Linked DNA regions of Homo sapiens: region 1 is linked to region 2. Evidence: fine-mapped expression QTL. A gene starts in region 2. The other region holds a variant in brackets. All regions are shown on one strand. Distances are between the middles of the regions. Region 1 overlaps CD300LD (CD300 molecule like family member d). Region 2 holds the start of BTBD17 (BTB domain containing 17).

The links. PIP is the estimated chance that this variant, and not a neighbour inherited with it, causes the effect.
Region 1: its variant is fine-mapped to the expression of BTBD17 in cerebellar hemisphere (GTEx, PIP 0.97).

The regions. Positions count from the first base shown.
Region 1 is chr17:74,569,659-74,584,893 of GRCh38, reverse strand. It overlaps CD300LD (CD300 molecule like family member d), which reads left to right. Exons shown (of 4, transcript NM_001115152.2): 3 at 2,583-2,676; 4 at 4,781-5,529. The coding sequence ends at 4,892. CD300LD-AS1 (CD300LD antisense RNA 1) reads right to left here and starts at 215. Exons shown (of 3, transcript NR_171003.1): 1 at 1-215. RefSeq lists an enhancer at 14,578-15,235. The variant C/T (reference allele first, on the strand shown) is at 7,465.
Region 2 is chr17:74,355,427-74,370,661 of GRCh38, reverse strand. BTBD17 (BTB domain containing 17) reads left to right here and starts at 8,794. Exons shown (of 3, transcript NM_001080466.2): 1 at 8,794-8,927; 2 at 10,417-10,693; 3 at 12,931-14,246. The coding sequence starts at 8,843. The coding sequence ends at 14,005. It overlaps KIF19 (kinesin family member 19), which reads right to left. Exons shown (of 20, transcript NM_153209.4): 20 at 14,842-15,235. It overlaps GPR142 (G protein-coupled receptor 142), which reads right to left and starts at 3,156. Exons shown (of 4, transcript NM_001331076.1): 1 at 2,868-3,156; 2 at 1,028-1,194; 3 at 1-141. The coding sequence starts at 1,121. RefSeq lists enhancers at 1,554-2,542, 12,835-13,707 and silencers at 8,923-8,972, 9,053-9,102.

The sequences.
Region 1 (15,235 bases), 210 kb before region 2:
CTTGTTCCAGGGTTTCTCGTTCGTCTTGTCAGTTTCTCTTTCTCTGCTCCAGCAGACCTTCTTTGCTCACGTTCCTGTCCCGGCCACCACTTGTCGCTGTTGGTTGCTAGGGGATTGAACAAAGGGGGGACGAATGCAGAAATGAAGACAAAGACAAAGAGATCTGTTTTGAAAGAAGGGGTCAGGGAGCTCCTTGCTTCTAGTGAACAAGGGCCCTGAGCTTCTACAGCCCTTCGTATTTATTAGGTAGAAAGAGAAGGGAGGGAGAGGTAATGGTTGGTCAGCTGCTTGATTTATTACAGGTACACACAATAGCTTTCTTTGTACAACAGGCTTCAGATGTTCCTATAGATAATCACAAGGAACACAGCACTTGGGGTGTGACTGCCCTCAGCACCCCTTCGGGCAGCAGACACCGTTGCCAGTTTTCCAACATCCTGCTTTCATGAGAACAGTTTTCTGTTCGCTCATATAGCCTCCAGTGCTATACTGTGTTGGTCATGACTCTCATTCTTTCGGCCTGTAACAAAAGTTAACATTACTGACCTTGACACCAAGTGTTGGAAACACTCTCGAGTACCTGGAGCCCTCATACCCTGCAGGTGGGAATGCACATGATGCAACCACCTGGGAAAAGAGTTTGCAGTTTCTTCAGACATGAAATGTATGCCCGCCAGAGATGATCCAGCCCCTCAGCACTTCCATATTTAGTCAAAATAATAGAAAGTTTTATGTTCACACAGAGACCTGTATGTGAATGTTCATAGCAGCTTTATTTGTAATAGCAAAAAACTGGAAACAATTCAAGTGAGTGGATTTTTTTAAAAATGTGAAATACAGGCTGGGCGTGGTGGTTCACGCCTGTAATCCCAGCACTTTGTTAAGGCTGAGGCAGGTGGATCACTTGAGGCTAGGAGTTTGAGACCAGCCTAGCCAACATGACAAAACCCCATCTCTACTAAAAATAAAAAAAAATTAGCTGGCTATGGTGGCACTAACCTGTAGTCCCAGATGCTTGGGAGGGTGAGGCAGAGAATTGCTTGAACCTGGGAGGCAGTGGTTGCAGTGAGCCAAGATCATGCCACTGCACTGCAACCTGAGTGACAGAGAGAGACTCTGTCTCAAAAAAAAAAAAAAAAAAAAAGTGAAATACTCATGCAATGGAATACAACTTGCAATAAAAGGGAATGTTCTACTGATATACCAATGATAAAATAGTTATGCTGAGTGAAAGAAACCAGCTCAAAAGCTGATTTACACTGTATGATTCCATTTATATTAGATTCTGGAAAATGCCAACTCATAGATAGTAAGAGAAAATGGATCATCCCTTAGCTAAGGCTGTCACAACAAAATACCACAGACTGGGTGGCGTAAACAACAGAAACGTATTTCTCATAGTTCTGGAGGCTGGAAGTCCGAGATCAAGGTGTTGGCAGGTTCAGTTGAGCCTGAGGCCTCCCTCCCTGGCTTGCAGGTGGCTGCCTTCTTGCTACCCCTTCTTGCGGTTGCCCCTCTGTGCTCGCATGCCTTGGTGTCTCCCTGTGTGTCCTCATCTCCTCTTCAGAGAACGATACCAGTCAGATGGCATTAGGACTTACCCTAACAAACTCATTTTAACTTAATTGCCTCTTGAAAGGTCCTATCTCCAAATATAGTCACATTTTGAGGTACTGGGGACTAGCATATCAACATATAATTTTTAGGGGTCCACAGTTCAGTCCCTAACACCTGGGGACAGAGTAAGGGGGAGGGCGGGCATGGGGATTATGAATGTGTTGACTGTCCTGATCATGGTGGTGGTGTTACCGGGTATACACATACATCAGAGTTTAACATATTGTTCTCTTTAAATATTTACAGTTTATTATGTGTCAGTTATACCTTGATTTAATCCCAGAAAAATGATATAAAAAGACAAATATGATGCTGTGATCTCTTATTATTAGATTGCTCCTGAAGCAAACTTTGAATATCAAAACTCACTACACACACCGTCAGCGTGAGTAGGGTGTGGTCCAGCAGGAATTGGCACACAGCAGAGGCTGGGATGCATCAGACATAGCCAGACTTCAACAGGGGTAGGGAGGGTGAGATTGGGAAGCTGCTGGAAGACAGGAAACGGCCAGAGAGGGAAGAGCGGAGGTGGAGGGCGCTGGGCCTGGCTGCAGAGAGCCAGGAATCCGGGGCTCTCCAGAAGTGGCTCAGCGAGGGGGCCACCAGCTCAGCCGCCGAATCACTCCAGAACAGGCGGTAAGGAGTTCACCTCGGCTGTGGCCGAGACTCAGAAAAGAGCTAGCCTAGCCCGAGGAGAGCGGAATGCTATCGAGTGTGCTAAGCTGTGCCATGCAACTGATGATTGCAAATTCCCTCCTTAGTCTGCTCCTCAGAATTTCTCACATGGTAATAATTCAGTAACTTCTCTTTAGAAGATAATTCATGTAATATTTTGGATGCTGACCAGACAGTCTTGGACCCCAAGGCAGAGGCTCCTTAATTCCTAGGTGGAGAAGCCTTAGGGCCACAGCCAGAGCTGGGCCATCCATGGAAGGGGTGAACCGTGTTCTGCTTTGTATGTTTAGGCACACAAACTGCAGTCTCAGAATGGACAACCACAACAGCAAGCCTGGCTTTCACAGCTGCAGCCACCCAGAAGACCAGCAGCCCCCTCACCAGGTAGGTGGAGCCAGGTCCCACCACTTTCGCACAGGCCTGGCCCCATGGCCTCTCCTCTAACAGGGGTTGCCAGATACAACAATAGCATGCCCAGTTACACTGCAATTTCAGACAAACAACAAAACATTTTTTAGCATAAGTATATCCCAACTATTTCATGGGCTATACTTATACTAAAAAAGCATATGTTGTTTATCTGAACTTCAAATTTAACTGAGCATTCTATGCTTTTATTTGTTAACTCTGATAGCCCTGTTTTCTGGGGGTACTCAGGCTGGGACCCCCATAGGCCCCTGCTGTTTCGTCTTTGTATCAGTAAAGTCACTGCAAACCTCCGATGGCCTGCCCCAATCTCAGTTTACCTTTGAGGAAAATAAGATTTCCCATCTAAGTGTTGGCTACATGAAGGCAAACTCTGCAGCACAGACATGAGCCACCACATGACTGAAGGTGGCAGGAGAGGGGCCTGAACATGCCCTCCCCACCTCCTGGGGTCAAGAGGGCATATCGAGGTTTGGCCTTTAGTGGGTTAGGAGAGACACCTCTCTCATCTGCTCCTAGTTTCTGCCCAAGAACAAATATTGTTCCAGCCTCTCTCTCCCAAGACACCAGAGTAGGGGAATGGAAAATGCTAGAGGGAAAGGGGGAAGCTGGAAGTTTGGCGTTCTCACCCTCCCAAGCTGGCAGAGGGGTCTGGAGGATTAGTCTGATGCTCACCAGCCCTGGAGGTGTCCAGAGGAGTCCCCAGAGGTCGGCACCTGATAGCTAGCCGTTGGGTTCCATCACGGCCTGCTGTGGTCAAGCCCCCCAGGTCAAGGCCAGAGCCCAAACCACAGACCGTCCTGCTCCTGCTAGAGCCCAGCGCAGAGGCCCGTGTCTCTGGCTCAGTCCTCCTGGAACTACTCCTCAAGGTCTGCCAGTTCCCTCTGCAGTTCAACTCTGTTTTTTTTTTTTTATTCACTCGATCTTGAGTTCTGAGAATGCATCTGCAGAGCTCCACCCACGGAGCTGGCTTTAGGACTCCTCGACTGTTTTTTTTTTGTTTGTTTTTTTCCTCCTCCATGCTTTTGTGCAAACTGATGGGACTTTAGCTGTCAGGGGACAGAGGGCAAAGGACTCCAGAGGTGTAGCAGGAGAGCCCCAAGAGTGAAGATGCTGGGAAGGACCTTTGGGGGCATTTTGACCCGTGGCCTGCTGTATAGCCCCTCCTCCATCTCCCCCAAATACCCTCAGTCCCATCATCTGAGGGCTCATCCGGCATTCTGGAGTTGGATATAATTTTGAATTTTCTTTTCTGTCTTTTTTTTTTTTTTTTTTAGAGATGGGGCCTCAATATGTTGCCCAGGCTGGTCTTGAACTCTTGGGCTCAAGCAATCCACCTGCCTTGGCCTCCCAAAGTGCTGGGATTACACGTGCGAACCACCACGCCTGGCCTGATTTTTAAAATTTATCCGTGAGCTGAGAGTGGCTTCAAGTTGCGCTGAGGTGAAAGAAACAACGAAGGCCCAAGTTGGGAGGTCGAGACCCTGGGAAGTGGGTGGAGGATGGTGAGGGGGTGGAATTGATGGTCAATAAGGTTCTGGGCCTTACACATCCATAGAAAGTAACAGGGAACATAAGGAACCCCAGGGCCAGGTGCTGGTCCACAGGAAGAGGGTCAGAGCAAGGTCAGCCTCCAAGGCCTTCAAGAATATGATGTCAGATCTGATACCTGAAAGGTGGGTAGCGTTTGCACAGGCAGCGATGAGGGCGGAGAGGCCCTCTGGGTGCAGAATGCAGCAGAAGCCGAGGTAAGTAGAGACAGGGAATGCTAAACCCCTTCAAGATAGGTGAGGAGGAGTTATGGGAGACCAGCCAAAAAGGCCGGATGGGAGTTGGCAGACGGGACCTTGAATGCCAGGCTGAGTTTACTGGAGGTGTAGGGAGGACTGGGAGCCTCGCTGGTGAGCAGTGTGACTGTGCCCCACCAAAGGGGCTGGCCTGTCTGGGGTTCCAGGCTTACCCTCACATAGACATTGGAAGCCAGGATCTGGGCATAGAGCTGAGAAGACCTGAGACCTCTGACCCAGGAGGCAGCTCATTTCCTGTCACCGTGTTCCCACAGGTCCCCGCTCAAGAGCACCCACTTCCTGTTCCTGTTCCTCCTGGAGCTGCCTCTGCTCCTGAGCATGCTGGGGACCGTCCTCTGGGTAAACAGACCACAAAGAAGGTCTTGAAGGAGGAGGAGTCAGCCCGATGATGAGAGTCCCAATGCCCATTGACGTCCTGTCCAGGGCGAAAGGCCCTCCCACAGAAGAAAAAACATTTTCTTTTCTCTTCTTTTTTTCTTTCTAGAGATAGAGTCTTGCTCTGTCACCCAGGCTGGAATGCAATGGTGTAATCTCTGCTCACTGCAACTTTCCCCTCCCAGGCTCAAGCGATCCTCCTGCCTCAACCTCCAGAGTAGCTGGGGCTACAGGCACATGCCACCACCCCCAGCTAATTTTTAAATTTTTTTGTAGAGATGGGCTTCCACCACGTTGCCCAGGCTGGTCTCGAACTCTTGACCTCAAGAGATCCTCCCGCTTCGCCTCCCAAAGTGGTGGGATTACAGGTGTGAGCCACCGCACCTGGCAGAAAAACAACATTTCTATGGGGAATTGACTGTGGTTCTAGAGGCAGTGCTGGCCCCAGCTTCAGGGAACAGCCTCCTAGTCCCCTATCTCCTGCAGCCGTGCCACCTGGGGCTATTCCCTTCTCTGCACAGTCCCTGGGGCCTGACAGAGCCCTTCTTCCTTCTGAGGTCTCCAATGCAGTAGAAAACATGAGAAGAATGTGTTTCCCCCGAGAGGCACCTATGCCGTAGTGGACATTCGTGATCTCAGGTCTGTGAGCCACATGCAATGTTAACGGACCTGTCTTTGCATTCCGTGGGGTTCAAGTCTCCAGTCAATAATGGGTTTCAAAATCCTAAACCCATGAAAACAGAAAAACGGAACCAAACTCTGGTAATGGGCCAACTTAAGGGAAGATGAGTACAGAAGAGAGCAGAGGTTTCCGGGCTGCCGTGCCAGCTGCTCTCCTGCCACTTGTGGGGAAGGGAAGTCAGGAGATTCCTGGATGAGTACGATTGAAGATGATGGGAAAACACAGCCTCCTTTCGTCACTGTAAGACTTTTCTATTAGTGTTGATTGTTACATTTTCTTACCTCTTTTAAGAGTATTGCAGTTGGCTGCTACTCTCAATTTGGGGTATATGGGGAGATCACCCATACATTTTGGGGACTGTGACATAATCCATAAACTGGATGCCAGAGCTAGAACTGTGAGCTGGGGATGGCTGGGTCCTCAGTACCGCCTGCCTGGGTCCCCAGGGTGGTGCTCAGTCTTGGACTCTAATGACTGAGCCCCCTGCCCAGTGGGATCATCTGGTGGTTAAGACAGAGGCTAAATAACAGAAATTCCCTTCTGGGAACATGAACCAGGATCACCCAACTGCCCTCTGTCAGGTCAATCTCTGTACCCAGGTGAGACCCTTATTCACTCCCCACCATCATTCATTCCAAAATGCTGGGCGCAGTGGCTCACTCCTGTAATCCCAGAACTTTGGGAGGCCGAGGTGGGTAGATCACTTGAGGCCAGGACTTTGAGACCATCCTGGCCAACATGGTGAAACCCCATCTCTACTAAAAGTACAAAACTTAGCTGGGTATGGTGGCGCACACCTATAATCCCAGCTACTTGGGAGGCTGAGACATGAGAATCTCTTGAGCCTGGGAGGTGGAGGTTGCAGTAAGTCCAGATTGCACCACTGCACTCCAGCCTGGGTGATTGAGGGAGACTCTGTCACAAAAAATACATAAATAAAAATAAAAAATAAGCGAAAACATTTACTAAGCATCCACTAAGTATCAGGCACTGTTCAAGTACAACTATCACCGAAATAAAGAAAAAGACCTGGGTAAGTGCCGTGAAGGCAGTCTACAGGCTCAAAGATAAAGGATCACTCAGCTAGAAAATGATGAAATCATGGTTATTATCCAGACTCCCCCACCCCCAGCCTCACCCTTCATGAGCTCTGCCGCCCCTCTCTGGGCTGACCCATGTCCTGTCTGCTGCCCAGGCTCTGACCAGCGCTGCTCCCAGCCCCCACCCAGTGTGGACACCCCACCAACTCATAACACTCTCTGAGCTCCCACGTTCTCATCTTGTTTTTAACAACATTATTGAATCTTTCTATTGACTCTCTGCAGCAAAAGATGAGGACTTCTGTATCTTCCTCTTTTCCCACCATCCTCTTCCCCGTACTAATATTGTCAGTATGGTGGTTTTTGTATTGATGATATTCATTGTTGGTTTTTTTGTTTGCTTGTTTTTTTTTTTTTTGAGACGGAGCCTCGTTCTGTCACCCAGGCGGGAGTGCAGTGGCGCGATCTTGGCTCACTGCAACCTCTGCATCCTGGCTTCAAGCAATTCTCCTGCTTCAGCTTCCCGAGTAGCTGGGAATACAGGCACATGCCACCACGCCCAGTTAATTTTTGTATTTTTAGCAGAGACGGGGTTTCAACATATTGATCAGGCTGGTCTCAAACTCCTGACCTCAGGTGATCCACCCGCCCCGCCTCTGGTAACTGTTTTTAAAAGTGCAATCTAGCCACAGTGAATAGGGACAAGAGTCAGACTGGGGAGCTCTTGTGCCTGTTCAAGAGGGAAGGCCCTGTGGTAATCAGGGAGAAAGAGGGGGGTGGGAGGGCAATGGAGAAAAGTGGACAGATCTGAGGGTCTTGGGTTAACACAATGGCTGGGGCA[C/T]GAGCAAAAGATGAGCCAAGGATGTTGCCCAGGTGACTGGAGTTTGGTCTGAGAAAAAGGGGACCATGGGTGTAATTTACTGTGATGAGAAGAGGATCAGGCTGGGGAGTTTGCAGGAGGTCAAATCAAGAGTTTCCTTTTGGGGGCCGGGCGCGGTGGCTCACGCCTGTAATCCCAGCACTTTGGGAGGCCGAGGCGGGCGGGTCACGAGGTCAGGAGATCAAGACCATCCTGGCTAACACGGTGAAACCCCGTCTCTACTAAAAATACAAAAAATTAGCAGGACGTGGTGGCGGGCGCCTGTAGTCCCAGCTACTTGGGAGGCTGAGGCAGGAGAATGGCGTGAACCCGGGAGGCAGAGCTTGCAGTGAGCCAAGATGGCGCCACTGCACTCTAGCCTGACTCCGTCTCAAAAACCAACAAACAAACAAAAAAACAGAGATGTAATCCTTGCCCTTAGAGAATCACAGTTTGGCAGATACACGTGTTCTACCTCCACTCAAGGTGATTTTGCCCGCCAGGATGAAGGCACAAGCAGCAAGCTGCCTAGATTACTTCAAACTCCCTTCCCAGAGCACCAGGAGAGAAAGCATCTGCTTTATCCCAGCCTCAAGTTCCTGGTTTCTGGTGTCTCCTTCTAAGCAACAAGGTCTAAGTGGCAAGGTCTAAGCAGCTTGGCAAGACAATCGGGACATTTAGCCTCATGACTTCTCAGCTTCAGACTCCAATCACAGCCGCCGGGGAGCCATAGGTCACCAAAACCAGCAGCTCAACGTGACTGTGCTTTACTTGTCTTATTCTTCCCCTTCACGACCTCAATCTTTGTCTTTCCAATTCCTCCCCAGATCTACTAGCAAGAGGCAGTTAACCAGATCAACATCCTCATTCTTATGGTTGAAAGAATGCAAATCGATTCTCATTCTGCCATTTTCCTTTCTTATTTTGTCGAATATCTCAAAGTTTCTCTTTCCTGTCAAGACTAGCTAATTTGCACAATTGCGTCTAAATTTACTGATTTAATTCTTTCTATAAGCTAACTTCTCTGTTCTTGCTACCCATATAAGAGATTCTTTCTCTAGTCAATACTCAATAATCAATAACATTCATAGACATGTAGTGGGAATATATTTGAATAAACACTGTGGTATTGATGGATAAAGGGTCTAATGTAGCAGAAACTAATTACAAAAATGATAGCAAACAAATAAAGCAAAATCGAATATCCATGACAAATCCAAAAGCAATTTCCTTGGAAAGATGTTGACAAGTCTAATGAAATGAAAGATATATGATGTTGATCTCTGTAACTGAATTAACTTGGACATCTTCCCAACAAGATCACTATTTGAGTAGAATTTCTTTTCTTTTTCTTTTTCTTTTTCTTTTTTTTTTTTCTTTGAGACAGAGTCTCAATCTGTCGCCCAGGCTGGAGTGTAGCGGCATGATCTCGGCTCATTGCAACCTCCAACTCCCGGGTTCAAGCGGTTCTCCTGCCTCAGCCTCCCGAGTAGCTGGGATTACAGATGTGCACCACCACGCTCAGCTAATTTTTTGTATTTTTAGTAGAGATGGGGTTTCATCATGTTGGCAAGGCTGGTCTCGAACTCCTGACCTCAGGTGATTGGCCTGCCTTGGCCTCCCAAAGTGCAATGATTACAGGCATGAGCCACTGTGCCTGGCCACTATTTGAGTAGAATTTCTCACCTCATTTGCCGTACTCCCTCCTGTACCTGTGGGACCTAGTACTCCTGGGTAAACACTCTTTTTCACTGGAAGCTAGCTTGATGGTACCTTACCCCGCTTCCCTATCATCACAACAGGTGGCTCTCCCCTCTGTTATCATATTGCACTAAAATTCAGTCAAACTTTCCATCTCTTATTGGGGGTACCCAATACCACTCCCAGGTTTAATGATTCACTAGCATAACCATGAAAAGGAGGTCTAGAATAACAAACTCCATTTTGCTCCTGACCACACCCCTACCCTGCAATATCTTTAGCATATAACCCAAACTAACTGTGGGAGGAATTTAGTGTATAGTTTAACTTTTTTTCTTTTCTTTCTTTCTTTCTTTTTTTTTTTTGAGATAGAGTCTCGCTCTGTTGCTCAGGCTGGAGTGCAGTGGCGCGATCTCGGCTCACTGCAACCTCTGCCTCCTGAGTTCAAGCAATTCTCCTGCCTCAGCCTCCTGACTAGGTGGGACTACAGGTGTGCACCACCACACCCGGCTAACTTTTGTATTTTTAGTAGAGACAAGGTTTCACCCTGTTGGCCAGGCTGGTCTCGAACTCCTGACCTCAGGTGATCTGCCTGCCTTGGCCTCCCAAATTGCTGGGATTACAGGCATGAGCCATCACACCTGGCTATAGTTTCACTTTAAAGCAAGGATGATAATAGTCCCTTTGCAACACCCCTGAAGCAATAAGGAAGACATACACACAGTAACAATGTTATGCTAACGATTTATAGGAGCATTGTGACCTGACCAAGAACAAAGAAGTTAATGCAACCTCCTCAGCTGACACCCAGATGTCTGTGGTCACCTGTCACTACCCGGCTCAACCTCCTCCTTGTTCTGCCTTCCCCAATATAAAAAGAAGCTTGAGGTTCATGCCTTTTATGATTGCTCTTTAGGACATGAGTCCACCATCTCTTTGGTTTGCTGCCTTGTAAAGCCATCTTCCTTGCCCCAACAGCTTGTCTCTCGACTTACTGGCTGTTGCTTGGCAAGCAGTTTGAGCTTTGGACTCGGCTACACTAGAAGGACTCAGAACTCAGAAAAGCTGTTATATGCATGGTTATGGTTTATTACACTGAAAGGATATGGATTAAAACCAGTAAAGGTAAAAAGTGCGTGGTGCAAGCTGCCAGCTGTCCTCTCCCAGTGGGATTTTGCAGACAGTGTTTAATTCTCCCATCCTAGCAACAATGTGTGACAACACACACAAAGTGCTCCATCCAGGGATGCTCACCCAAGCCTTGGTATCCAGAGAGTTCACTGGGGTCAGTCACATAGTCATGGAACACCTGTAGAACTGACCTCAGTGCCTAAGTCGCCAGAGATCAAATTAAAACTACATAGCTCAAAGTTCCCCCTACCCACCCATGAATTACATTGATAGCATCAACCATCTAGCATGGCTAGAAGCCCCCACCATAATCACATGGTTAACATGAGCTATCCAGCATGGCATCAAAGCCCCCAGATAAAAAAAGACAATCTAACCAGGCAGGATATTCCAAGGGTTTAGAGCTTATCTCCTAGAAGCAAAGCAAGGGCTAAACTTTTTTCGGGAAGGTGCAGGCTTTGGACAACCTAAGCCTGCTGAGTTAATATTTTTCCTGCATACATCCCTGCAATTGTAGCAGAACTGAGTTTCAAGCAAATGGGTTTCAAGGAATGACCAAAATGCAGCAGTGTTCTACCATTGACTATAATGCATTGCTGCTGGATTTTGGTCATTACTGAGAACCTCAGCCATTAGTTATTACTGAGAACCACAGCCATTAGTTATTACTGAGAACCACAGCCATTAGTTATTATTGAGAACCACAACCATTAGTTATTACTGAGAACCACAACCATTAGTTATTATTGAGAACCACAGCCATTAGTTATTACTAAGAACCACAGCCATTAGTTATTACTGAGAACCTCAGCCATTAGTTATTACTGAGAACCACAGCCATTAGTTATTACTGAGAACCACAGCCATTAGTTATTACTGAGAACCACAGCCATTAGTTATTACTGAGAACCACAGCCATTAGTTATTACTGAGAACCACAGCCATTAGTTATTATTGAGAACCACAGCCATTAGTTATTATTGAGAACAACAGCCATTAGTTATTACTGAGAACCACAGCCCTTATGGAGTAACAGAGAGCTCCTCTGATTTCCTGGTCCGTCTACTAAAAAGACAACTGTGCTGAAGTGTTCATCCTCCTCATATTGGAACCAGAGCCTCTAGTACCCATCAGGACCCTGCAGGGCCTCAGTCTTGTTCACCAGTGTAGATAGCAGTGCCTGGCACAAGTCACCTGCTGGATGGAATGAGAACACATGGCATGCGGTTCTAAGATGACTCTCCTGCCTGCCCGCTCTCCCTTGACCCAGAGACAGGAGGAGCTGTATAATGTGGGTTTCCTTTATCTTAGTTAATAACAACCTTATTGCTGGGATTGGATCCTTCCAAGAGTATGTATCCACTCAGGTCTAGTGCCCATTCTAGGTGGGCACTAGAAGGTATGCAGAGAATTAGGTGCTTATAATATTGTGGAAAGGGCCGAAGAAGCAGCTCCTAAGCTTGTCCCTCCCTCCTCCCTCACATCCAGAACAGCCTGCTTTTGAGGCCCCTAGGGTCAAACAGGGAGCATGAAGTCTTGGTATCTGCCAAGCAACTGCCTTCCACATCCAGGAAGCTAGAGAATAATTTTATGAAGCTGCAATCCAAGGAATCTTCCTAATGGAAGTCAGATGAAGAAGTTGTCACTGCCCTCACTGCTTCTTGTCACCCAGGAAGCTAGAAAACATATCCTGGAACTCTGCTTCATGAAAGTCTCCTGTTTCTTCTAATCCTTGTTTGCCAACAGCAGTGGCTAAGAGCTGTGGAAGATAACCTCTGTCTAACTGGGCCTTTCAAATGGCCTCAGAGACACCTCAGTTGGTGGAATCCAGTTGTCATCCAAATCCCTGATTTCCAAATGAGGAAAGTGACAAGAAGCCTCACTGTTTCTGCAAAGGTCTTGCCCCAGACAGGGCTCCTCCAGGGAGAAGGAGCACAGGTGACTCATGCTGAAAAGCCAGAACGGTGAAGCATTGGGACAGACACCAGGACGTTGTCTCAGTCAGCTCAGGCTGCTGTAACAAAATACCATAAACCGAGTGGTTTATAAACAAGGGACCTTTATTTATTATAGTTCTGAAGGCTGGGAAGTCAAGATCAAGATGTTGGTAGATTTGGTGTTTGGTGAGGACTCTCTTCTTGACTTGCAGATGGCTGCCATCTTTCTGTATCCTCGTATGGCAGAGAGAGTGCTATGGTCTGAGTGTTTGTGTTTCTCCAGAATTCATGTGTTGAAACTTATTCCCAGTGTGTTGGTATTAGGAGGTGGATCCTTGGGGATAATTCAGTTGTGGGGGTGTAACCCTTATGAACAGGATTAGTACCCTTGTAAAAGAGACCCCAGAGAGCTGTCTTGCCCCTTCCACCATGTGAAGACACAGCAAAAAAAAGTACTCTTTATGAACCAGAAGGTGAGTGCGCAACAGACACTGAATCTGCTAGCACTTTGATCTTGGACTTTCCAGCCTCCACAACTGTGAGTAATGCATTTCTGTTGTTCATAACCCACCCAGTCTATGGTATTTTAAAATAGCAGCCTAAATGGACTAAGAAAGAAAGTGAGATCTCTCTTCTTCTTCTGATAAGGGCACTAATCCCACAATGAAGGCCTGATCCTCATGACCTCATCTAACCCTAATTACCTCCCACAGGCTCATTTCCTAATATCACCACATTACGGGTTAGGGCTTCCACATATGAATTTTTGGGGGAACTCATCAATCCATAGCAGACACCCAGAAGCAGACTTTGTTGTGTTGTTAATTTCCCCTGAAGATACTTCCTGCTATTCTGCAAACAGATATTGAATGAAATAAGACTTGGAGGCCTCTTCCACTTGCCATCTCTCAACCCATCTCACCCCTGCCTGAGTGTTGCAATCCGTACCTTGCATCATGAGAGCCAGAGGTGGGACCCCACCGAAGACCTGGGTTCAAATCCTGACCTCCCCACTTCCCATCATGACAGTTTAGTTCGTCTTTCCAGCTCCAGTCATCTTATTTAAAAGTGACCTGGCAGGGGTGTTGGGATGGGTATGCAGGATTTAAATATACAGAGTGCATGGTACGTAGAAGATCAAAAGAGGAAAGTTTCCCAGAGGGATGCCACCACCTTCAAATGCCTTTGCTCAACTCCTGGGACTGAGCAGGGTGAATATTTTTATTCCTATTTCACAGATGAGGAGACTGATGCTAAGAGACTTTTGCTGATTTGCCTAAAGTCATATAACTAGTGAACAGCAGACCTTAAAATCTGAGCCAGGGCTCCCAGCTTATGGCCAGAACCTTCCTCACTGTGCTACATGGCCCACATCATCAGAGTCAGGTAGAGACCCTCTCTGAGCCGGGCTCCCTATAGCACCCCAGCCCCCATGTTGGGAAGACCCTCCCCACACCCTGCTCCCTAGAGAGCCCTGTATTTGTAACAAGATCCCAAAGAGGCATCCATTGCCCAGAGCCGGTCAGGAGGCTGCCCTCTTGGTGACGTCTCCCTTGAGTGCCAGTGGGGAGGGAAGAAAGTGGGCAGTGGGGTCCACCATCCTTGGGCACTTGCCCATTCTCACCATGATGCACAAGATACTGAGAACTACTCCCCAAATGGATTGACGTCGGGTAGTAGAGGTGAGAGAAGAGAGGCCCAATGCCTTAATACATTCCTGATCCCCTCCCCTGGAAAATATGGAAGGATCGGAGCTCTCACCCTCCAATTCAGCTCACAAGGCTGGGGCCGAGCTCTGTCTGCGTCTCCGGGTGCCCAGATTGGTCCTGCCTTTGTGGAGGCTACAGCCTCACCTGGAAATGGATGCCATGCAACAGGACAATGACAGCACAGGGACATGAGATTAAATACAGAAATAAGCATTGCAGGTAACAGGAACCCCAGAGGGAGGGGTCTGGAAGGCCTGGAGCAGGCAGGGATGCCTTCCAGGAGAGGTGTGGTCTGAGCTCATCCTGGGAGAGTGAGAAGGGAGGATGACGGTTTTCGAGGAAGCAGAAAGACAAGCACAGCCCCGAAAGGCAGAGAGAAATGTGTGGGCTACTCACACTGTCCTACACATCACATGCCCCGAGTTTGCCCTAAGAACGCACCCCTCACTGATGAGATCTTAACTTTCTGGAAGCCCCAAGAGCTGTCCCTCAAGGGCAGCGATGGTGGGGGTCTCAGTGTGGTGCAGTGCCAGGCAGGGCCCCGGGCTCCCCGCCCTCCTGTGCCTCATGGCCAGTGTTCATTATTCTCAGTCCTCCCCTAGCTCTGCCCTCCTGGAGCGGACAGCATTTTCCAGGACAGGTTTCAGAGACAGAAGGACAAGGGCCTGCTGGGGAAGGGACAGCGGCTCCAGATGCTGGCCTTGACATGGAAAAAGCCTGGATGTCCCAGATGTGGGTCATCTCTTCAAGGAATTTGTCATCTCCTGGGGGACTCCAGGGCCCAGAGTACATCTGCTTCAAAGGTGGGTTCCCTGTGGCATTGCCATGTCCTTTGCATTTGGCAAACTGTCTGGTCCTAGCTAAAAAAATGAAACACACACAGGCTGTTTCTAAGCAGACCCTGCAGCCTCTCCCTGCCCCGACCTTGGATGAGCGAGAAGCACGGAGTCGGTGTGCTGCGGGGCACCCTTCCAGCCCGGTTAGGGAACCTCCAGTAGTGGGTTCTGTGGTTGTGGTCAGTGACTTGCCGCCTTGTCCTGTAAGAGGACTGTGCTTCTCCTTCCCACTGACTTCAGGCTTGACCCTATGACGATGAACGGTGAGCAGGAGCCGCATGTGCGCCTTCTGAGCAGAGGCTCAGAGAGCCACCCGGTGCCTTCCCTCTCCTCTAGCGGACTGGGCTCCGCAGCCTGGTGCCCAAGCAATGCTGACTCACCGCTTGCGTATAGACGAGCGAGAAACAAGCTTCTGTGGTTACAGCATGCTGGGATTAGG
Region 2 (15,235 bases):
GCAGGACACTGTAGTAGATGACAGGGATGACGCCAGCCACACACGGGGACCTCTCTGCGATCTCTGGCCAGTGGCTTTCAAACTCCTGGCTCAGCCCGCTGACGTGGGGCGTGGGCAGCAGGGTCACTCGTGGCTGGCCAGCTAGAAGGTGCGGATGGGCAGAGTCAGAGCCTCTGGTCTATTTCTAACCTGGCTGGGCGCAGCCCCGCCCTGACCTGGGGTCTTTCTAGTCACCCTGCTCTGTGCAGACCCTCTAGTCAGACCCAGCTGAGTGCACTGTCTGTTGCTGTGAGAATTCTTGCCAAGACCACCCTCACCCCCACCCCATGTCACCCCACTCCCTCAGTGGCCCGGCTCCCCCACTGATGGGAAGTCCCTGGCAGCACGGCCTGCTGCCATAGAGACCATTGCTCCCCATGGGTCCTCCCCATGGGCCCTCACCCGGCCTAGCAGGGGCTCTGAAACAGGGGGCACTTGTCGAGGTGCAGGCTCCTGGGCCGCCTCCGGGCCAGAGGGTCTGAAGCGGGGTTGCAGCAGCCGTGCTTGTAATCAGCAACCTGGGTGATTCCGACCCGGGTGATGCCAGCCACACACAGGGACCTCTCTAGGAGGTCCACAGTGGAGGCCCCAGGTCTGCACAGCTCCACTCAACAGCTGTCCCCCTCTAAGGAGAGGCTGTTGGTAGGGCCCCCTCTTTTCTAAACTAAAGATACCCTCTTCAAAGGTGAGCACCACTAAAGCTGGAATGGCCCAAGTCCACAGATGGGGAAACTCAGTCCACAGGGGTAAGGTGGCTGGTCTAGGATAAGCACCGTCCACTCTGGCCCCTGTTCCCCTGAAGCCACACTGCGCGTCTCTTTCAGGCTGAACTCCAGCTTTTCGTTTCCTGCTGAGGCCGGGGGGCTCACTGCTCACTCACTCTCAGCTTTGGCCCCTACTCCACCCTCTAGGTCCCTAACCTGCCTCCTGTTCCCTCCTGCCTTTCCACCTTATTGCCCCCAGCACACCCCACTTCAAGATGCCTTACCTGTCTCTCGTCCCTCAAGCCCCATGCTCTGGGGCCCTGAGTCCTGGGTCACCTGTGGCTTTTTCTGAGGGTCCCCGCAGCTCCCTGTCAGCATCGCCAGCTGTACCTCTCACCCCTTGGCTCTCCAAGTGGTTGTTTGCCCCAGGATCCTTACGCAGACACTGAGCCTGTTAGTGCAGGGGGCGGGGCGGGGGAAGGAGGAGGAAGGAACTGGTGGGCGGAGGCACCGGGGAAAGAGCTAGAGTAGATGCTGGTGGAGCAAACCAGGGTGCTCTAAGGCGCACAGGCAGGGGAAGGGGTCGGGCTGGGCAGGGGCTTCAGCTTCAGGAGAGACGAGCTGAGGGTGGCATGGGGTTCACAGGTATGTCTATGCCTGGGGGAGCAGGAAGTGAGGAGAAGAGGCAGGATGGCAGGATGGGGGTTCTGGGGGGCTGCCTCGTGCCCCGGGGCACTCTGTGAGCTGGCCTGTGTTCAGCTGGGGTCAAACCTGGGGCTGAGGACTTTGGGGACAGGCAGAAGGACTCAGGGTGCTGACTCTATGAGCATCCAGACTGAAAGGGAAGAGAGTAGGGCACCTCTGTGAGGAGTTGGGGAAGTCGTGCCAGGTAGGAGTGGTAAGGCTGCCACAGACAGGGCTATGATCCCAAGAGGCTCAGGGGACCAGGTGCACAGGGTCAGTCCTGCAGTGGCCATGGTGGGGGAGGTGGAGGCTACCCCCAGGGGCAGGATGGCAGGCAGCCGTGCACAGGGTGGGGCATCCTCTGGGAGCAGCCGGACGAGGCTGCCTGCAGCCGGTGCTGGGAAACCACAGTCCTGCAAGCTGTTGTTTCCCTGGCCCTGGTGAAATGGACCATCCCTCAAGAATATCAATCCCTGGCAAATAAACAACAGCCGTTGCTGGTGTGCACTCAGAAGAGGCCAGACTGGCTCTCCTGCCCTAGAGGAAGAGTGACCAGAGCAGCCCACAAGCAGGTACCCGGGACATGGATGCCCCGTGGACGGTCTCGGGAGGAGAGCTCAGGCCCCCCTGGAATCACCTCCCATGGCCTGTCCTCTGGGAATGCAGCAGAAAATATGGCAGGAAATATAGGGAGCTTCCCAGCTCTGGGAGTTAGATCTCACATCAGAGCCTGGAACTCCCCATCCCAACCCCCCCTCGGATACTCACAGCGCAGGCCCTGCTGCCCCCTGGTGGCCACATCCTGACCCTGCAAGCCTGAAAGTCCCATGGTTTGGCTAGGCACCCTGGGTGGCACAGTGGGACTGGAGACGGAGCTGCCCGCTCAGGGCAGGTCCTCTGGTGGAGTGCTGGGACCCCAGCCCCAGAAAGTGCAAGTAGCACAGATGACGCCCCAGGCCACCACCTCCTTGCAGCAGGAGGCTAGGGGTGAGAGGAGGCTGACCCTCTCTTCAAGGAGCTGCCATGGGTGAGGGGCAAGGAGGGTCCCTGCCAACATTTACCGAGTGCCCACCCTGTCCCTACACTTTGTTTTTTAAATTTTATGTATAGATATAGAGAGAGTTTGGGGCCTCGCTGTGTTGCCGAGGCTGGTCTGGAACTCCAGGCTTCAAGTGGTCCTTCTGCCTTGGCCTCTCAAAGAGCTGGGATTACAGGTGTGAGTCACCATGCCAAGCCCACTTTGTTTCTTTGAGGGATGTACACTTGACTGGAAACCTTAAATATTCTTCAGACGGAACACAAGGGTTTCAACCAAGGCTGTCACACAGGCTACACAGAAAACTAGAGCTCCCTGGATTCAGAGCGAGGAGAGGGAGAGATGGAGGAGGGGGACTGAGTTTGCTACAATGATGCCCCATGCACGTCCTTCCAGCAACTTACCATCCCACCCCATAGAAGGCCTGTTCTGGGAGGCAGCTGGATTCACCTGGCGGAAACTGCTGGAGTCCTTGGATGGCCTTATTCGGAGGTCCCAGCTTCCCCCTGTGACCTGTGGAGACCTCAGCCACCTGGAATGGCTGAGACAAGAATGCTGGCTTTTCTGTGCATGGGACACCATTGATTTGTCTTCCTCAGTATATGCTTCTGTACCCAGGACAGCAGTGATGTCCTGCAGGGAAGTGGGGACCCACTGGATCTTTTGCTCCATGGGCAACATCATAATACTCATTGCTAACAACGCTGGGATCCATGGTTCAAGAGATGGAGCCTGGAGATGTCCAGCTCAGTGGCAGCAGCAGACAGGACAGGGCAACCACGTCATCAGCCAGCACACAGCCTATACAGAGGTGAGAGGCCCCTTCTTGGTGGTGGCGATTCTTTCCTACATGGTGTGGTGTCAGTGACCAGGGTAGGCTGCTAGCCCACGGTGGAAGGGATCCTATCCACTAAGGCAGTCACCTCTGAGCCAGCCTGGGCAAGGTGAAAGATGTTATGAAGACCCAGCCGCACACCTTGACTTTTTTTTTCTTTTCTTTTTGAGACAGAGTCTCGCTCTGTCACCCAGGCTGGAGTGCAATGGTGCTATCTCGGCTCACTGCAACCTCTGCCTCCTGGGTTCCAGTGATTCTCCTGCCTCAGCCTCCCAAGTAGCTGGGATTACAGGTGCCTGCCACCATGCCTGGCTAATTTTTGTATTTTTAGTAGAGACGGGGTTTCACCGTGTTAGCCAGGCTGGTCCTGAGCTCCTGGCCTCAGGTGATATGCCCACCTGGGTCTCCCAAAAATGCTGGGATCACAGGTGTGAGCCACCGCACCCGGCCACACCTTGACCTTTTTGGTCTCTGAAGTCTTCAGCCCTGATCAGTCCAGCCAGAGCCACCAGGCCTGAGCACCAGGGTCTCTCTCTCTCTTTTTTTTCCTTCTGCCTCCCTACCCCTCAAGACAGGGTCTCACTCTGTCACCCAGGCTGTGGTACAGTGGTGTGATCATAGCTCACTGCAGCCTCGAACTCCCAGGCTCAAGTGATCCTCCCATCTCAGCCTCCCAAATAGCTGGCATTACAGGCAAGCACCAACACGCCCAGCTAATTTTCGTATTTTTTGTAGAGACGGTGTTTCGCCATGTTGCCTAGGCTGGTCTCGAGCTCCTGGGCTCATGCAATCCACCTGCCTCGGCCTCCCAGAGTGCTGGGATTACAGATGTGAGCCACCACACCTGGCCAAGGATTCCTTCTTATTTAAGTTTTTGTTTGTTTGAGACAGAGTCTCACCCTGTTGCCCAGGCTGGAGTGCAGGGGTGCAATCTCAGCTCACTGCAACCTCTGCTTCCCGGGTTCAAGCGATTTTCCTGCCTCAGCCTCCCAAGTAGCTGGGATTACAGTCACCAGCCACCAAGCTTGGCTAATATTTGTAGTTTTAGTAGAGACGGGGTTTTACCATGTTGCCCGGGCTGGGCTTGAACTCCTGACCTCAAGTGATCCACCCGCCTCAGCCTCCCAAAGTGCTGGAATTAAAGGTGTGAGACATCATGCCCGGCCTCATATTTACCTTTATGTGCTCCCCTGTGTACACGGGGCCTGGAACTTAAACCCATGATCTCCTGTCCCCAGTCCAAGTGGCCCAGTGACTCAGGGAACCCTAAGTCAGGACAGGAGGCACTACAGATGCAAGGGAGGGTGCCAGGTAGGGCCAGGCTGCGTCTGGAGCCCACCCCTCTGAGGTGTTACCACAGTCCAGTGTCTGATCACCCCCTTTGCAGATTCAGAAACTCTTTATCTGGTCCCAAGCTTGCAAGAGTTTTCCGTTGCTTTTACAGTACTAGAGATTCCTTGTCCAAAGGGATCACTTATCACAATTGGAAAAACTTCCCCAAAAAGACAGCATGGGCTGGACATGGTGGCTCACATCTGTAATCCCAGCACTTTGGGGAGGCCGAGGCGGGCAGATCACGAGGTCAGGAGATCGAGACCATCCTGGCCAACATGGTGAAACCCCGTCTCTACTAAAAATACAACAATTAGCCAGCCACTACAGGTAGTGGGTACCTGTAGTCCCAGCTACTCCGGAGGCAAAGGCAGGAGAATCGCCTGCACCCAGGAGGCAGAGGTTGCAGTGAGCTGAGATCGCACCACTGTACTCCAGCCTGGCGACAGAGTGAGACTCCATCTCAAACAAAACAAAACAAAACAAAACAAAACAAAAACACAACATGGGGTTGTGGAAAGAAAAGTCAAGTAGCCAGGTGCAGTGGTTCATACCTGTGGTCCCAGCTACTTGGAAGGCTGAGGCTGGAGGATTGCTTGAGCCCAGGAATTTGAGGCTGCAGTGAGCTATGACAGTGCCACCACACTCCAGCCTGGGTGAAAGAGTGAGACCCCATATCTAACAACAACAACAACAAAAATCAGAAAAAAGAAAAGTCAAGCACAACTCAGAACTCGAAAAATAAATCCTGCCTCTGAGGTTCCTGGTCATAAGACCTCAGACACATGGCTTGGGCTATAAACACTCCCGTCTGGGGCGGGAAGTAACACTCCTCTCTAGGATGGTGCTGGCTTGTGAATTCATCAGACTTGCCTTCAAGGAATTATGGCGCTCCCAGATCCATGGGGCCAATATATGTGTGTGTGTGTGTGTGTGTGTGTGTGTGTGTGTGTGTGTGTGTGTGTGTATATATATATATATATATATGCAGTGCTGCAGATTCTTCCTCTCAAAGACTTGGCCAAGCACCGTGGCCCACGCCTGTAATCCCAGCACTTTGGGAGGCCAAGGCGGGAGGATCACCTGAGGTGAGGAGATCGAGACCAGCCTGGCCAACATGGTGAAACCTCATCTCTACTAAAAATACAAAAATTAGCTGCACATAGTAGTGCACACCTGTAATCCCAGCTACACAGGAGGCTGAGGCAGGAGAATTGTTTGAACCCAGAAGGTGGAGGTTGCAGTGAGCTGAGATGGCGCCACCGCACTCCAGCCTGGGCGACAGAGCGAGGCTTCATCTCAAAAGAAAAAAAAAAAGGGCTCAGGGCAAATACCTGGCTTCCTCTCTCCCGCCCCAGGACACTCCCCCACACATACATATGCATGTACACATACCACACACACATATCCACAAATATGCATGCACACACACCACGCACATGCATGGACACACACAATACGCACACACATATAAATAGGCACATGCACACACACGCACTGCATACACACATGTGCACATGCATACCATACACACACACACACACACACACACACACACTCCAGCAATGCTCTGTTACGAAAATGAGAGGCCGGGCACGGTGGCTCACGCCTGTAATCCCAGCACTTTGGGAGGCCGAGGCGGTCGGATCACGAGGTCAGGAGATTGAGACCATCCCGGCTAACACGGTAAAACCCCGTCTCTACTGAAAGTACAAAAAATTAGCTGAGCGTGGTGGTGGGCGCCTGTAGTCCCAGCTACTCGGGAGGCTGAGGCAGGAGAATGGTGTGAACCCAGGAGGCAGAGCTTGCAGTGAGCCAAGATTGTGCCACTGCACTCCAGCCTGGGCAATGGTGCAGGACTCCGTCTCAAAAAAAAAGAAAAAAAGAAAATGAGAACAGAGAATGCCTCTATGTGGAAAGCTAGTTTCTAAATCATTCGAAGAGGGCCAGGGATAAGGGAGATTAGAAATAATGGGAGGTGGGGCCTGTCAGAGATGGGGAGTCAGAGGTGACTCTTCCGGGTCTTCTTGATGATCCAGGGCCTCCCAGCTTCCTTCACACTTGAAATGCCACCAATCTAGCTCTAGTAGGTAGCGCTTGTCTTGGGGTGCGTATAACAATTGTCTGGGAGTACTTAGAAAATACAGACAGCCAGACCCTGCCCCTGAAAATCCTGGTTCCAAGGTGGAGCATGGGAGATTCTAATGCAGGTGGCTACCCTTCAAGAATGACTGACACAAAATTAGCTAGGCGTGGTGGCACTGCCTTTGTCCCAGCTACTTGGGAGGCTGAGGCAGGAGGATCGCTTGGGCCTAGGAGTTTGAGGCTGCAGTGAGCTATGATTGTGTCACTGCACTCCAGCCTTGGTGACTGAGAGATTCTGCCTCTAGAAAAGCAAAACAAAACAAAGAATGACTGATGCAGAGGCTGAAGGAGGCTGGAGTTGAGAGGCACAAATATCAAACGACAGTTTTCTGAGTAGCGGGTTCTCTTATCATCAATAACATTCCTATCGAAAGCACTGTGCTTGGAAGCTGGGATGCCCTCAGGGACCAGGGCTGCCCTGCTGCATGGAGACTTGGACTTGCTGGGTTGAGCCAGGACATGGTACAGCCCATGGGAAGGGCAGGCGGGCAGCCAGTGGGCAAGGGATAGTGGATTTGGACGAGGGGAGCCAGGCATGAAACTCAGGGCAGCTGGAGGGGTTTCCGCTGGGCTGGAGAGCTCCAACTCTGCCAACCCGGACGAGGCAGGTGCCAGACCCAGTTCTTGCTCTCTCTGCGGCTCCAGAGAGGGGGTGGAGCTGCTGGGTCTCTGTGCCAGCCAGAGGCAGAAATCAATGCATCGAGCTGGCCCCTGGGATCCAGAGAGCCAGGGAGAGGAAGATTTAATTCATCCCCAACCTAGAGCCCTGCCTCGGAGTCAGATCCCTTGGGAGTCACCCACTTCGGTTAGCCAAGCTCAAAGGAGTCCCTCCCACGAAGAACTGGGGCAGACCCTGCTGGCTCCCTGCAAAGGTGAGGACTCACAGCATGCCACCCTACACACACACACACACACACACATGCGCGCGCGCTTTTGCTGAGCTCCAGACTCACTTTCCTCTCTCTGTTGCCTTTGTTTTTAGAAGAGCACTCCTCTGCACTAACCCAACTGAGACTGCAACCTAGCTCCCTGCCTCAGTTTCCTTACATTGGGAGTGAAACACCAGGTCTGCAGCATGCCTCCTTAGCCTGGAAAAGGAAAAATTACAGTGGGAAATAAGACAGAAGCTGGTAAAACAAGCCTTCCAAGGAGGTGAACCCAGAGACCTGAGGCCACTTGGGGAAGGAGAATTCAAGTCAGGAAATAGCAGGGCAGACAGTCCCCAGCCTTGGGCTGGCTGGAGCGCAGAGCTAGAAGGTGGCCAGCCCCGCTCTGGGCAGGGGTCACCCATGCAGTGGTGCACGGGGCAGGGTGCATCTGCTCTATGCCCAGCCCTGCCACCTGGCTCAGCTTGCCCCTGGGGGAGGCGACAGTCACAGTCCCCACAGAACTTTCCTGCCAGCCCATCACCCTCCCCACAGCATTCCAGGAACCTTCTTCAACAAAGAATATGAAACTGACATCAGTTGCCCATGGGCCCCTATTCGAGAGATCTCTGAGCTTCTCTCTGAGGAGCTGCCCCACCCCAAAATGGGAGTGGGGGAGGGGTGGGAGCCTCAGCCGCCTCTCCTTTCCTCTTCCAGGCCCTTCCTTTGCAGCCGGCTCACCATGGTGCTCCAGGCACGACGCTGCCAAGTGTGCTCTGTGCCAGGGCCGAGGCCTGGGGTTGGGGGAGGGAACTGGGGACCCTCAGGCCAATGGCTGCCAGTGGTCCTGGAGCCCCTCGCCTATTCTGCAGAGAGCCTGAAACTTTCCAGGGAGAGGCACGGCTAGCCCTGCTGGGTGGTAAGGAGATTGGGGGAGGAGGGTTCCGGATCTGTTCCCCTTGGGGGCCCACAGGCAGCACAATAGCCCCCGGGGCTGCCGCTCTCTGGCTTAAGTGGTTGCCTGGGCAACAGCTGGGGCCAGTTTCCACCAATCCATGGAGGAGGCTGAGTGGGGGAGGGAGGCCAAGCAGGAAGGGGGGTGCCGTCCCCTTGTGCCGGATCCTATATAAGGAAGAGGGATGTGAGCAGAGTGGTCTGGGCTTCACCGTCCCTCCAGTGGACTTGGGGGCTGAGCATAAAGATGCCTAGGAGAGGCTACTCCAAGCCTGGGTCCTGGGGCAGCTTCTGGGCCATGCTGACCTTGGTGGGCCTGGTCACCCATGCAGGTGAGCGGGCAGTGGGCCAGGTGCGGGGCAGGGTGGAGCGGCAGGTCGTCCCAGCCCTGGCTGCACGCGGCCGGCCAGGAGGGGGCGGTGTCCAGCTGCTGGGGAGAGCACGGGGTGGACCGGACAGCTCCACGGACTCATCTGTCTGAAGGAAGGAGGGGCCTGGCAGGCAGGTGGGCAGGGCTCTTAAGGACAAGAGGACCCTCCATTGCCCATTGTCCTGGGCAGAGGCTGAATGGGGACGCCATCAGCATTCAGGTCCTTCAAAGTGACAGCTGGGGAAGGCCGTGCTGGGAAACATACTACCCGCTTCTCTTTCACCCTCCCTTTGTCCCTCGGCCTCCCTCTCTCATGCACAGATGCTCTGCTCCTGTGTGAGCCTTCTCTCCTGTGTGCACCACGGGCCTGCATGTGCTGTGCGTGCACATGTGGCTGCGGCCCATCTGCTGCAATCAGGCCCCCGCCCGCCTCCCTCTGCGAGGCTCCCCTCGCTGTTCTCGGCTTGGGAAAGCTGCTGACAGTTTCTATAACTGAGTGCATATCCCCATCTGACTGTCGGGGCATCCTGGAGCATAAGCAAAGGGCCGGCCTGGCCAGCCTCAATGCTCAGTTACCCAGGAAGTTCTATTCCAGCACCAGCTGGCCCTTCGCACTTTCTCCTGTCCCCTGCTGGCCACCCCAGAAAATCGGCTTCTGTCTCAGAGATCAGGACCCAAGAGGGCAGGGCTGGGCCTGGAAAACAGCTTCCCTTCCACACCCGCAGCCTCGTCTCACACCCGCCCCTCTCTCCTGCTACTGCTGTGGCCTCCCTAATGCTCTCTCTGCTCCCAGTACCCCAGGCCCATTCCGTTCAAGGGCCTTTGCGGGGCTGGAGCCTGCCTTGACACTGGTTCCCTGGCTGGCTCCTTTAAAACTGGAGTGCTTATTTGTGTGTGTCTTACCCGTTTGATATGTCAATTCGTGCTTTTATGAGCATAAGAACTTGGCTTGCTTTGTCCACTGCCACATCCCAAGCTCTTAGGAGAATGTCTAGCATATAGTAAGTGCTCAATAAATATTTGTTAGTGAATGCACCACTTCTGACTACTGCTCCAAGGGGTTAGATGGATAATTCTTTAGGAAGTGAGAAGGGTGGGACCACGAGTTTCCTCAACCCTTGCCTGGGGGGCTGGCAGCATGGAGATGAGTTCTGGGCATGTTGTCCTAAACCTGAGCACAACCTCCCCCTGCCTGAATGCACCCCCTTCCAAGAGCATCCTCTTGGGGTTTGCATTGGCATGACCTTCCCACCCAGGGTGCGTTTGTATGTGCACCGATGCATCCACGCGCCTCGTGGGCACAAACAGGTATGCACATACAACCCGCCTAGGCCCACCTTGCCCTCTGCTCACACCCATGCATATGTCTCCAGCTGGTCCCTCTCCACCCCTGACTGAGGTTCTGGGCCCGGGCACCTTCTCAGGCTATGCTGTGTTCCTTCCTGCTGCAGCACAGAGAGCCGATGTTGGCGGGGAGGCAGCTGGCACCTCCATCAACCACTCCCAGGCGGTGCTCCAGCGCTTGCAGGAGCTGCTGCGGCAGGGCAACGCCAGCGATGTGGTTCTGCGGGTGCAGGCTGCGGGCACCGATGAGGTCCGGGTATTCCACGCCCACCGCCTGCTGCTGGGACTGCACAGTGAGCTGTTCCTGGAGCTGCTAAGTAACCAGAGCGAGGCGGTGCTGCAGGAGCCACAGGACTGCGCCGCTGTCTTCGACAAGTTCATCAGGTGGGGACGCGGAAGACTAGGGGATGGCTTCATCCCTTCCTCAGCCCCCGGCTCCTCCACCTACAGGGTCAGGGAAGCCCAGGCCCTTAGAGGTTGTTATGTCCATTTCCCCGGACATCACTGGGATGACAGTGACCCCTGCATCCCTTCTTCCACTGTACAGCTCCCTGTCTTTGCCCGTGTCATCTGTGCAGTTTGATGTCACTTTCGGTTCCTAGTAACCCCCTCAGAGCTGTTTCCAAACCTGGCCATAGACAGCTTTTAAAAACTACAGTTTTGGGGCCGGGCACGGTGGCTCATGCCTGTAATCCCAGCAATTTGGGAGGCTGAGGCAGGTGGATCACTTGAGGTCAGGAGTTCAAGACCAGCCTGGCCAACATGGTGAAACCCTGTCTCTACTAAAAATATAGAAAATTAGCTGGGTGTGGTGGCACACGACTGTAATCCCAGCTATTTGGGAGGCTAAGGCAGGAGAATGGCTTGAACCTGGGAGGCAGAGTTTGGGTTTGCAGTGAGCTGAGATTGTGCCACTAGATTCCAGCCTGGGTGACAGAGCAGGATTCTGTCTGAAAAAAATCAACCAACCAACCAACCAACCAACCAAACAAACAAACAAAAAAACTACAGTTTCACGGATCCCAACCTGGATTGTCAGTTTCAGGTCTAGGGTTAGGGCCAGCAATCATTTTTTATTTTATTTTATTTATTTACTTTTTATTTTCCTAAATATTCCATTATAGACGAATATTTTTTATTTGAAAGCATCGCTGTGGTTTTGGTGTTTGGCCAGGTTTGGAACCACAGGGCTAGGGAGCTGAAAAAGTTAGACGGCTCTCTCCACCTCCTGCCTCCTGCCGTGATGCTGCTCAGGGGGTGCCATTCACACTAGTGTCTAAGAAAGTAACTCTGTTCTAACGGCTCAGACGAGATGCCTGCAGAATTCCATACATTGCTTCCAAGTTCCAGGCAACAGGAAAGGGGATAAGACAGAAGGGCAAAAAGGGTCTTCCTGTTAACCCGGAATCAGTTGCATTTAATCAGCCTTCCTGCAAATCCCAAACTGCGCCCATTGACCAGCAGTTAGTCACATGGCCAAGGCCAGAATGAGGGAGCCTGGGAAATGTGGTCTTTTATTCCCAGAGGCAATCACGCAGGGGAAAGGGGAGAAATGGACGTTGGGGAAGATGGCTGGCAGTGGCTGCCACACTCCTATAGAGGCAAGTGCGGTGCCGTGTGCCGGTGGGGACTGGCAGGAAAGGTGAGCCATGGGACAGTGGCAGAAGTAAGACGAAGAGATACTCAGCAGAAGTGATCACCAACAGTAGGAGAGGAAAAAGAAAGGTGAGGCTGCAAAAAAGAAATGGGGGCTCACACCTGTAATCCCAGCACTTTGAGAGGCCAAGGTGGGAGGACTGCTCAAGTCCAGGAGTTTGAGACCAACCTGAGCAATACAGAAAGACCCCATCTCAAAAAAAAAAAAAAAAAAAAAAAAAGCTGGAGTGTCGTGGCATGATGATCATAGCTCACTGCAGCCTTGAACTCCTAGGCTGAAGCTATCTTCCCACCTCAGACTCCCAGGCAGCTGGGACTACAAGCGTGCACCACCACACATGACTAATGTTTTAACATTTTTTATTTTTTGTAGAGATAGGGTCTTGCTATGTTGCCCAAGCTGGTCTTGAACTCCTGGCCTCAAGCAATCCTCCCATCTTGGCCTTCCAAAGTGCTGAGATTCCAGGTGTGAGCCACTAGCACCCACCTGGCCTGTAGCAAGATTCTTTATTCTCCTCTGGTTGTCACAGTAACCCTGAGGGGTGTGTGCCACTCCCCCTTTCCTAGGTGATTGATTAGCCTAAGGTTCACTGAAGTTAAGTGACTTGCCCAGACTCATGGCAAGGAGAAGGCAGGCCATGGATCCCAACCAGACTGGAAACCCCAAAGGCAGGAGCCACGTCTGTTTTGTTCCAGCCTAGGGCTGCACGCCTAGTAGAGGCACAGTCAATGCAGGCAATTTCTACATCACCGCGGAAACGGAAAGAAGAGCCTGTGAAGTAAGAATGGCCTGGAAGGGTCCTTGAAAGGAAAACATGGGAAGCCTCAGGGTGGGGCTTCCACTGTGTTTGCACCCGGACAGTGAAGCTCCAACTCCAGGCCGGGTCCCCTGTGGACTCTAAAAAATCTATCCTGGGAGGTGGGTACCGCCCTGACCCCGCCCCACCTCTCGGTCTCTCCCGCAGGTACCTGTACTGCGGGGAGCTGACCGTGCTGCTGACCCAGGCCATCCCCCTGCACAGACTGGCCACCAAGTACGGCGTGTCCTCCCTGCAGCGCGGCGTGGCCGACTACATGCGCGCGCACCTGGCGGGAGGCGCGGGCCCGGCGGTGGGCTGGTACCACTACGCGGTGGGCACCGGGGACGAGGCCCTGCGCGAGAGCTGCCTGCAGTTCCTGGCCTGGAACCTGTCGGCCGTGGCGGCCAGCACCGAGTGGGGCGCCGTGAGCCCCGAGCTGCTCTGGCAGCTCCTGCAACGCTCGGACCTGGTGCTGCAGGATGAACTGGAGCTGTTCCACGCGCTGGAGGCCTGGCTGGGTCGCGCGCGGCCGCCCCCTGCCGTGGCCGAGCGGGCGCTGCGCGCCATACGCTACCCCATGATCCCACCGGCACAGCTGTTCCAGCTGCAGGCGCGCTCGGCAGCCCTGGCGCGCCACGGCCCCGCGGTGGCCGACCTCCTGCTGCAGGCCTACCAGTTCCACGCCGCGTCGCCGCTGCACTACGCCAAGTTCTTCGACGTCAACGGCAGCGCCTTCCTGCCCCGCAACTACCTCGCGCCCGCCTGGGGCGCCCCGTGGGTCATCAACAACCCGGCCCGCGACGACCGCAGCACCAGCTTCCAGACGCAGCTGGGCCCGAGTGGCCACGACGCGGGCCGCCGGGTCACCTGGAACGTGCTCTTCTCGCCGCGCTGGCTGCCCGTCAGCCTGCGGCCCGTTTACGCGGACGCCGCGGGCACTGCTCTGCCCGCCGCGCGCCCGGAGGACGGCCGACCGCGGCTGGTGGTGACGCCGGCCAGCAGCGGCGGCGACGCGGCGGGCGTGAGCTTCCAGAAGACGGTGCTGGTGGGGGCGCGCCAGCAGGGCCGCCTGCTGGTCCGCCACGCCTACAGCTTCCACCAGAGCAGCGAGGAGGCCGGCGACTTCCTGGCGCACGCCGACCTGCAGCGGCGCAACTCCGAGTACCTGGTTGAGAACGCCCTGCACCTGCACCTCATCGTCAAGCCCGTATACCACACCCTTATCCGGACCCCCAAGTAGCCTCGGGGTCTGGGAATAAAGGCCTGGCCTAGGTGGTCCCTGTGGGTCTGGGAAGGGCAAGGCGAGCCTGGAGGTGGCAACAAGCCTGGTCCCCTGGATGGCCAGGCGCCGGCCACCCTAGGGCTGGGGTGGAGTCCAGGTGAGGCGTGGTAGACAAGATGCCTGGTTTCAAGAGCTGATTTCACAGCTGACTTGAAGGAACGTTCTTGGTCCTGAATAAACCGATGCTCAGAGTGGTAAAGGGATGATTGAACCACTCAGTTTCTGGGTAAAAACAACCCAGGGAGGGTCCCACAAGCCAGGGGGTTTAGGGGTTTCACTCCCCTTTGTTGAGCTTTCCCCCCACCCAGACACAGAACTAGGGCAGGTAAAAGCATCCACATGGTCACAGCAACCCACCTGCCTGGGAGACAGGGAGCGCCCCATTCCCCTTGCGGGGGAGTCAGGGAGCACCCCATTCCCCTTGCAGGAGTTTCCTCACTTTGAGGCTGAGGGGCTTAGCTGGGCAGTTTCTGAGCCCTGACCTCGAGGGGCAACCGCCTCATCTGGGTTGTGAGACTTTCTGGCATCTGGGCCGCCTCAGGTCCCTGACCTCTCCTGGGAGGGTGCCTGGGCAGGTGTGAAGGCCAGTGGGATAGGGACATAACGGATCTTGCTAGCCCCACCATGGGGAGAGGCCTCAGGATCTAGAGAAAAACCCCTCTCCCCCAGGTATTTGTAGGTTGGTGCTATATAGCGAGCCAGGGGTAGATGGGGACTAGGGGGAGCGGGAGTTGGTTGAATCTTAGTCATGGCCACCCCACATTCCAGACAAGGTCAAATTTCCAACACAACCATCAAGACCCAAATGGGATTTTATTGTTAAAAAGGAAGGGTGAGAAAAAACCACTGCCAAGTAACAAAACCAGATTCCCTCCCTCACCCACATCCCCAATTGTAATACGTGAAGTGCCTGTCGGCGCCTCCCCAACCATCCAGGATGCCCGTGCCCCACACGTGGGCCAGGAGCCCCGTCTCACTGTCAGCTGCTTTCCTCCGTTACCAAGGCCGAGGCTGGCCTCAGGGCTGTGCAGGTTTTGGCAACAGCATTCTGTCCAGGGCTGGGAAGCCAGGGAGCCCAGCCGTCCTGGCCATGTCCCCTGGCCTCACCTCTTTTCCCCAGTGGCACTGAAAGCATGGGAGGGTTGGGCAGAGACCCCAGTTCCTGGGTCTCAGGAGCCCTGGCCTGCT